2 linked regions of the Homo sapiens genome follow. The protein of the gene in region 2 interacts with the protein of the main gene of each other region in a pairwise test. Each region holds a gene or a part of one and is shown on either strand. Other genes may lie near its edges. The genes, in order: MAPKAPK3 and SMS.

Region 1 (4,020 bases), on a different chromosome or scaffold from region 2:
CCTTTCCCACCTCACTTCCTGCCACCTCTGGGCCAAAACCACTTTGTTCTGGCCAGAAAAATATATATGTTGTTCCCAAACAGGCCTTACTCCCCCAGGCCTCTGTGTCTAGGTCTGTGCTGGTCCCTGTCATGTGCATTCTTGCCTCATCCTCTCTGTTGGGTCAACTCCCTCTTTTTGGGGAAACTTCAGGGCTCAATTCAGATCGATCAATCTCTCTCTCTCTCTGTCTCCATCTCTCTCTCTCTCTCTCTCTCTCTCTCTCTTTCTCTCTCTGGAAAGTCCTCCCAGCACCTTTTTTTCTTTTTCTTTTCTTTTTTTTTTTTTTGAGACAGAGTCTTGCTCTGTCACCCAGGCTGGAGTGCAGTGGCACGATCTCGGCTCACTGCAAGCTCCGCCTCCCGGGTTCACGTCATTCTGCCTCAGCCTCCCGAGTAGCTGGGACTACAGGTGCCCGCCACCACGCCCAGCTATTTTTTGCATTTTTAGTGGAGATGGGGTTTCACCGTGTTAGCCAAGATGGTCTCGATCTCCTGACCTCGTGATCCACCCACCCAAAGTGCTGGGATTACAGGTGTGAGCCACCACGCCCGGCCCCTCCCAGCACCTTTCTTACTGGTTTTGCTTCTGTTCCTCCTACCACCCTGGGAGCAGCTTGAGGGCAGAGGCAGGTCAAGTTCACTTGGGGGTCCCTGGCTGGGGCCTGGCAGGAAACACTGGGCTTCCGAGCAAACAAAGGATGGGAGGATGGGCCCAGGACTGGAGGGAGATAGGAGGAGCCAGAGGGAAAGAAGGAGGGCGGTAGATGGCCAAGGAGGGGCTGGAGAGCCTTCCAGCCTGGGCCTGCATCCTGTGCTTTGCTGAGGTAGAGGAGCAGGTGGAGCTGCCCTGAGCTGGAGCCTCTCAAGGCTTCTGCCCCACTGAGTCCATATTTAGGAACCCATTTCCCACATGGATTAAAATAGTCCCTCTACAAACGCCAAAGCCCTGAAAATAGGCATAGGGACAGGGGAGAGGGCCGTCCCCGGAAAATATAATAAACGCCCCACTGGCCTCTCTGCAGAGTACATCACAGGAGCCAGAGCCCTCAGCCTGGGCCCAGGTCCAGCTGCCAAGAAATCCCCTGAGCTGTCTCTCCTGACCCCTTGAGTTGACCCTGAGCCCAAAACCTCCTAGAGCCTCAGTTTTCTCATCTTCCTTCCCCATAGCCAGAGCCTTCTCCTCCAGGCCTCCCCTCAATGTGGTCCACCTCAATGTCATCTCCTCTCAGAAGCCCTCCCTCTTCATCCTTTGTTTTTCTTTCTTTCAATATATGCTTTGTTTATTGAGGTATAATTGACATATAGTAAAATGCCCAGGTCTCAAGGGTCCAATTCAATGAGTTTTGATGATTGCACACACCCTTGGGACCCAAACTTCCATCAAGACAGAAAACATTCCTAGCTCCCCAGAAAGCTCTCACGTCATCGCCCTTTTCACTTCCTGTGCAGCACTTGCTCACAACATACAATTAGCTTGTTCCTTTGATAACTCTTTAAGCAAAAACACACATACAGATATTGTACTTTCAATGTGCCTGGCTCTGTTTGGAGTACTTTATAAACATTAGGAGGAAAGGACTTCATTATCACCACTTTTTGGATGAGAAATTGAGGCACAGAGAGGGGAAGTAACTGGCCCCAAATCACATGGCTGATCCCCCAGCCAGGCCAACACCAGCAGCCTCCCTCATCAGACTGTGGGCCCACAGGGCAGGGCCAGTCTGCCTGGCCACCTCTAGGTCCCAGTACTGGGATACGGGGCCTGACACAGAGCACTAACTCAGGTAATAGTTGTAGATTTTTTTTTTGAGACAGAATCTTGCTCTGTCACCCAGGCTGGAGTGCAGTGACACAGTCACAGCTCACTGCAGCCTTGATCTCCTGGGCTCAATGATTCTCCCACCTCAGCCTCCCAAGTAGCTGGGACCACAGGTGCATGCCACCACACCTGGCTAATTTTTTTTTTTTTTGGTTTTTTTTTTTTTTTTTTTTTTTTTTGGTAGAGACGGGGTTTTATCATGTTGCCCAGGCTGGTCTCGAAATCCTAGGCTCAAGTGATCCTCCTGCCTTGGCTTCTGAAGCACTGAGATTGTAGGCATGAGCCACTGTGCCTATCAATATTTGTAGATTTAATAAATCTATAGAGTAAGGATGAGGGGGAAAACCTCTCACAACCTATCATGAGGACAAGATAAGATTAAATTGGCCAGGCGTGGTGGCTGACGCCTGTAATCCCAGCATTTTGGGAGGCTGAGGCAGGTGTATCACGAGATCAGGAGTTTGAGACCAGCCTGACAAACATGGTGAAACCCCATCTCTACTAAAAATACAAAAATTAGTTAGTGTGGTGGTGTGCGTCTGTAACCCCAGCTACTCAGGAGGCTGAGGCAGAAGAATCACTTGAACCCAGGAGGCGGAGGTTGCAGTGAGCTGAGATCGTGCCACTGCACTACAGCCTAGATGACAGAATGAAACTCCATCTCAAAAAAAAAAAAAAAAAAAAAAAAAAAAAGATTAAATTGAGGAGGCCCCAGTGAGGCTCAACAAATGGGAGACATGACAACCTGGCAAACTTTCTCCCTGCTGCCCAAGGGCAGCCTGTACCTCACCTACCCTCTCTGTTGAACCAGGCTTTACCTCCTCTTCCAGGGAGCCCATCATGACTGCTCCATTCCACAAGGCATTTCTGCAAGTTGGCCTCCTTCACATAGGTACATGACTCCACACTATTCTTCACAAAAGATGTCCCAAAGTAAGAGCTCCATCTTCCCAGGCATGAGAATGAGCACAGGGCCAGGACACAGGAGGCCCAGGTTCTATGCCTATTCTCAGTATGACCTTAGGCCAGTCCCTTTTCCTCTCTGGGCCTCTGTTTCCCCAAAGTTAAGCTGTAGGGCTTGGGCTATATAGGGTGGGGGAGATAAGTGGGTAACAAGGCAGACTTCTAGACAGGCGTTCCTTGCAAAGTACCTACCATAGTACCACTCCCACATCATTGCCCCCATGGAGCAGCCTCTGGGTCCCCATGGCCTCCATATCCACATGCCTGAGCCCACTGGGGGCTACCTGAAATGGGCAATGATGTCATGGTTCCCAGTCACAGCTGGGAAGACAAGAAGATAGGAAGGGGCTAAGCACGGTGGCTTACGCCTGTAATCCTAACATTTTGGGAGACCGAGGCGGGAGGATCACCTGAGGTCAGGAGTTTGAGACCAACCTGGCCAACATGGTGAAACCCCATCTCTACTAAAAATACAAAAAAATTAGCTGGGTGTGGTGGTACGCACCTGTAATCCCAGCTACTTGGAAGGCTGAGGCAGGAGAATGGCTTGAACCCGGGAAGTGGAGGTTGCAGTGAGCCGAGATCGCATCATTGCACTCCAGCCTGGGCAAGAAAATAAGACTTTGCCTCAGAAAAAAAAAAAAAGAAGAAGAAGATAGGAGGGGATTTCTGACAACCCAACGGGCCCCCACCCTTGCCTCATTCCTCTCCTATGTTCCCTGAGCTCCCCAGGGGTCCACCAGAACTGGAGGGTCTGTGATGGCACTTGGGCAGCTCCACAGCTCCAGCTAGTGCCCAATAGGTACACACAGACACACATTCACACACACACACAGACGTACACATACACACACCCCTGTGAGGTGGAAACTGGGCTTCTTCCTGAGGAAGGGGATTCCTGGCCATGCACCTGAGGTGTGGGTCCCCACTGAAGCTCAACAAGCATTGAATTTGAGATGATGTTTCCTTTAGCGAGTGACCACAGGCCTCAGGCTCTGATATACTGGTTTTCACTTTCCCTTCTCCCCTCATCCTCCTTTGCCAAATTCTCTCTCTTGCCCCCAGAGCCAGCAGCCAGAAGGCCAAGACCCCTACTGACTTCACCAGCTAGTGAGCCCCAGCAAAATTTGAGAGCAGAAGGGCCCGTGCCCCTCTAGCATCACCAGGTGGAATGTGGGGGCCTCAAAACAGGCCAGG
Region 2 (3,500 bases):
CTGTAGAGCACCCTACCAAACTCGTTTCAACCTTCACTGCTGAAAAATGAAACTGGACTACACCAATTCAGGTAGATTATAGCCCAGGCCTTAGGTATACTGTGTAAATTGCAAGAACCTTTTAAAATCAAAGTTAATTTATGTGACCTTGTTTTCTTGTTTTTTCACTTGAAAGTAGAAAACAAAAATAAATTCAAGTACATCCCATAGCTTCTTAGTCGAAAATTCAGACTTAACTTATCAAAGGGGAATAATTTCAGATAATGTTACTGGGTTATTTGTTAATGATTTAATCTCTAACATTTAACCTCTGATCTTTATTCTCCAGATTTAAAAAAAAAAAAAAAAAAAAGGATAGCAATCCTTGTCCTTTTGAGGCCAGTAACAAAGGGTTTACAACAAGGTATACCCAATTTCTAGCTGTCGTCAACCTTATTTCATGAAAAGATAATAAAAACTGTGACAAGCATAAGCAAGGTATTTTGAAGATCTAAAGCTTAACTCCACTCTTAGAAAACTCCTATACCAAAAAAGGAAAAGAACCAGACTTCTCATGAATGCTGAAGCCCATAAATGTATGCTGTTTACTCACTCCTAGAGGCAACTGATAAAAATCAGACCACATTTTGATGTGGACCAATTCATTATCATAAAGTTAAGACCCTTTCTGACAGTGGGGAACCTGTTCATTCCAAATGGGTGCAGATAAGGAAAACCCTGCCAACAGGAAAAGATGAAATGTCCAAAAAGTGGTATGGGTATATGGGTGTGGATGTGTTTTTAAAGGAAGGTGAAGGGTAAGAGACATGGCTGGGGACCCTAAACTGAGCTTGGGTGCTCCAAAAGAGCCTGAGTGCTCTAACAGATCTCAAAAAAATAGTTCTATACTGTGGCGTCTTCTTTTCACTTTCAGTTTCCTGCTTTCCTCTTTAACTACAGAAGGTTAAACAATTACCTAGTTATCTTACATCTGCTCTGGAGCTTTCTTGTGGGCTGATCAAACTTAGCATGCTGAGTAATTAAGTACTTAAACATCCTAACACTTGCCAATAAGGATTCCTTCTTCTGGAAAGTGCCATGAACTGGAGAAACCTGTATTTCCGTTGCTCAGCAATGAGGAAGTCCCTCTGTGTTGGTCTCTGCAACTGAGGTTAATTTTATGAGCAAGGGACAGGCCTTCTATGCCTTAAGGCCTGATGAGGATCCACCAAGGCAGGGCAAGAGTAAATTGTCCTGCATTTGCATGCTGTGTATCCAAAGCACTTCTTAATTCCCATGATGTACCAGACACTAGTTCCTTCCCACGATGTCCGAATTGCATTCTTTTAAAATCTGACACCACTGGCAAACACTTCGGCAGTGTCCGATAGAAATTTGGATGATGAAAATGTTCCGTAGTTGTACTGTCCCACATGGCAGACACTAACCACTAGCTATTGTGACTAAGGAACTGAATTGTGTATTTTAATTAACTTTAAATAGCCATGTGGGGCTAGTGCCCATCCCACTGGATAGGGAGAGCTTCATTTTCCTCATGATCACTTGAAAATAACCTGCCTATGGCAGCTTAAAGTTGGTGGCCTATCAATTCTTAGTATCTTGGAAAGTTTTCTTCTTTGAACGCCTTGAGGCAAATTTTCTTATCACCCCACCCTGTCGGAAGTCTCTTAAAATTGCTTAACTTCACTCTGGGGCCTAGAGCCTGAAGGAGAAAAAGTGACCTTTTCTCTTTCCTGGAAAGGTTGAAGTCAGGTATTTGTTTTGTTTTGTTTTGAGGCGAGTTTCACTCTGTTGCCCAGGATGGAGCGCAGTGGTGCGATCTCAGCTCACTGCAACCTCCGCTTCCCGGGTTCAAGCTATTCTCCTGCCTCAGCCTCCTGAGAAGCTGGGATTACAAGCACGTACCACCACGCCTGGCTACTTTTTCTATTTTTAGTAGAGACGGGGTTTCACCCATGTTGGTCAGGCTGGTCTCGAACTGAAGTCAGGAGTTTTCTAGCTCCCTTTGATGAGGTGGCAGCTCTACCTGGGTCTCCACTTTAGGCAGTTCCAACTCCTTGGAGTTGGTCCATATCCCCTTTCTGCCTTAGTTTCATTTTACCTAGCATTTGTGTGTGTGCATCCATGCACATGAATGTTCATACACTGTCTTGTTTTGGTGTGAGGGGCCCAGTAGTTCAGTTCACCATGTTGCCAGAAGGAGGTGCTGAGTTTGATCTTTTCCACATCTTAAGCAGACACTACTGGGGACCACACTGCCATTCTGAATTTTTTTTTTTTTTTTTTTTTTTTGAGACAGTCTCATTGTGTCACCCAGGCAGGAGTGCAGCGGTGCGATGATCTCAGCTCACTGCAACCTCTGCTTCCTGCCTCCTCGGTTCAGGCCATTCGCATGCGTCAGCCTTTCAAGTAGCTGGAATTACAGGCATGCACTACCACGTCCAGCTAATTTTTGTATTTTTAGTAGAGACGGTGTTTTGCCACATTGGCCAGGCTGGTCTCAAACTCCTGACTTCAAGTGATCCGCCTGCCTCGGCCTCCTAAATTGCTGGGATTACAGGTGTGAGCTACCGCGCCCAGCCAACTATGATTGTTTCAATCGATTAAATATAAAAGGACATTCAAGAGTGGACTTACCGTTTCACCCGCCCAGTACTGTCCTGACTCAATTCTTTCATTCTTTCCTCTACTTTGTTCAAAATCTACAATTAAAAGAAAAATCAATGGGCTTGTAGAATAAGCTGCATGGAAGAACTAAATTACAGACCCAACGACTGAGGCCATGTTGACAGAGCTGTGCAAGATTGACCTGTCCCTCCTCCTACCCTCTAGCAGCCTGTAGACGCCTGGCCCAATTCCACTCTCCCATACCAACTATCCCTTCATGTTGCTGACCTAACCTTAGCGTAAGTTAGCAACAAAGTAACACGGAAGAGGAAGGCTAAAGGGTACTGCAGCTATAAAATCCTGGTTAAAGGTTTTCTATTCCCTCCAGTGGAAAATAAGATTACTCATACTAAGGCAGTTAAAAGGGAACGCTGACACCCAGGTTCCTAAAAACAACTAAACAACTACTTCTATTCTAAAATCACTTATGTGGAGGGAGGAAAGTTTAAAATTAACTGGAAAGTAAGCAATGAAGAGAACATTATTTTAACACTAAGCTAAGCAGATACTATGATCCTTAAACACTGAGTAAATGAAAGTGAAAAACCGACACTGTCGATCTCTTCTTTGCCTTGCGCATCACCATCATAACTCTGAAGGTCCAGCAACACCAATCCATGTGGGTAAATTCTCAAATTGGCAAAGCTACAAAGGAAAATATAATTTTAAGCTTAAGAATTGTATCGGGGCATTAAAAAAAAAAGAGAGAGAGAGAGAGATGTCACCCAATTAAAAGACCACTGCTCTTTATTTCCCCAAAAGTATACAGTTAAGCTTTTTGCTTTCTTACTAGGGCTGCGTCTTGCGGGGAGAAACTACCAATCATTTGTGGA

Evidence for each region.
Region 1: the proteins of SMS (region 2) and MAPKAPK3 interact in a two-hybrid assay, tested with the Homo sapiens proteins (one large-scale study listed by BioGRID and IntAct).

What each region holds. Positions count from the first base shown.
Region 1 is NC_000003.12:50,633,940-50,637,959, reverse strand, and holds part of MAPKAPK3 (MAP kinase-activated protein kinase 3), read right to left. Parts: intron 1-4,020. UniProt on the Homo sapiens protein: Stress-activated serine/threonine-protein kinase involved in cytokines production, endocytosis, cell migration, chromatin remodeling and transcriptional regulation.
Region 2 is NC_000023.11:21,971,709-21,975,208, reverse strand, and holds part of SMS (spermine synthase), read right to left. Parts: intron 3,313-3,500; coding exon 3,219-3,312; intron 2,703-3,218; coding exon 2,638-2,702; intron 1-2,637. UniProt on the Homo sapiens protein: Catalyzes the production of spermine from spermidine and decarboxylated S-adenosylmethionine (dcSAM).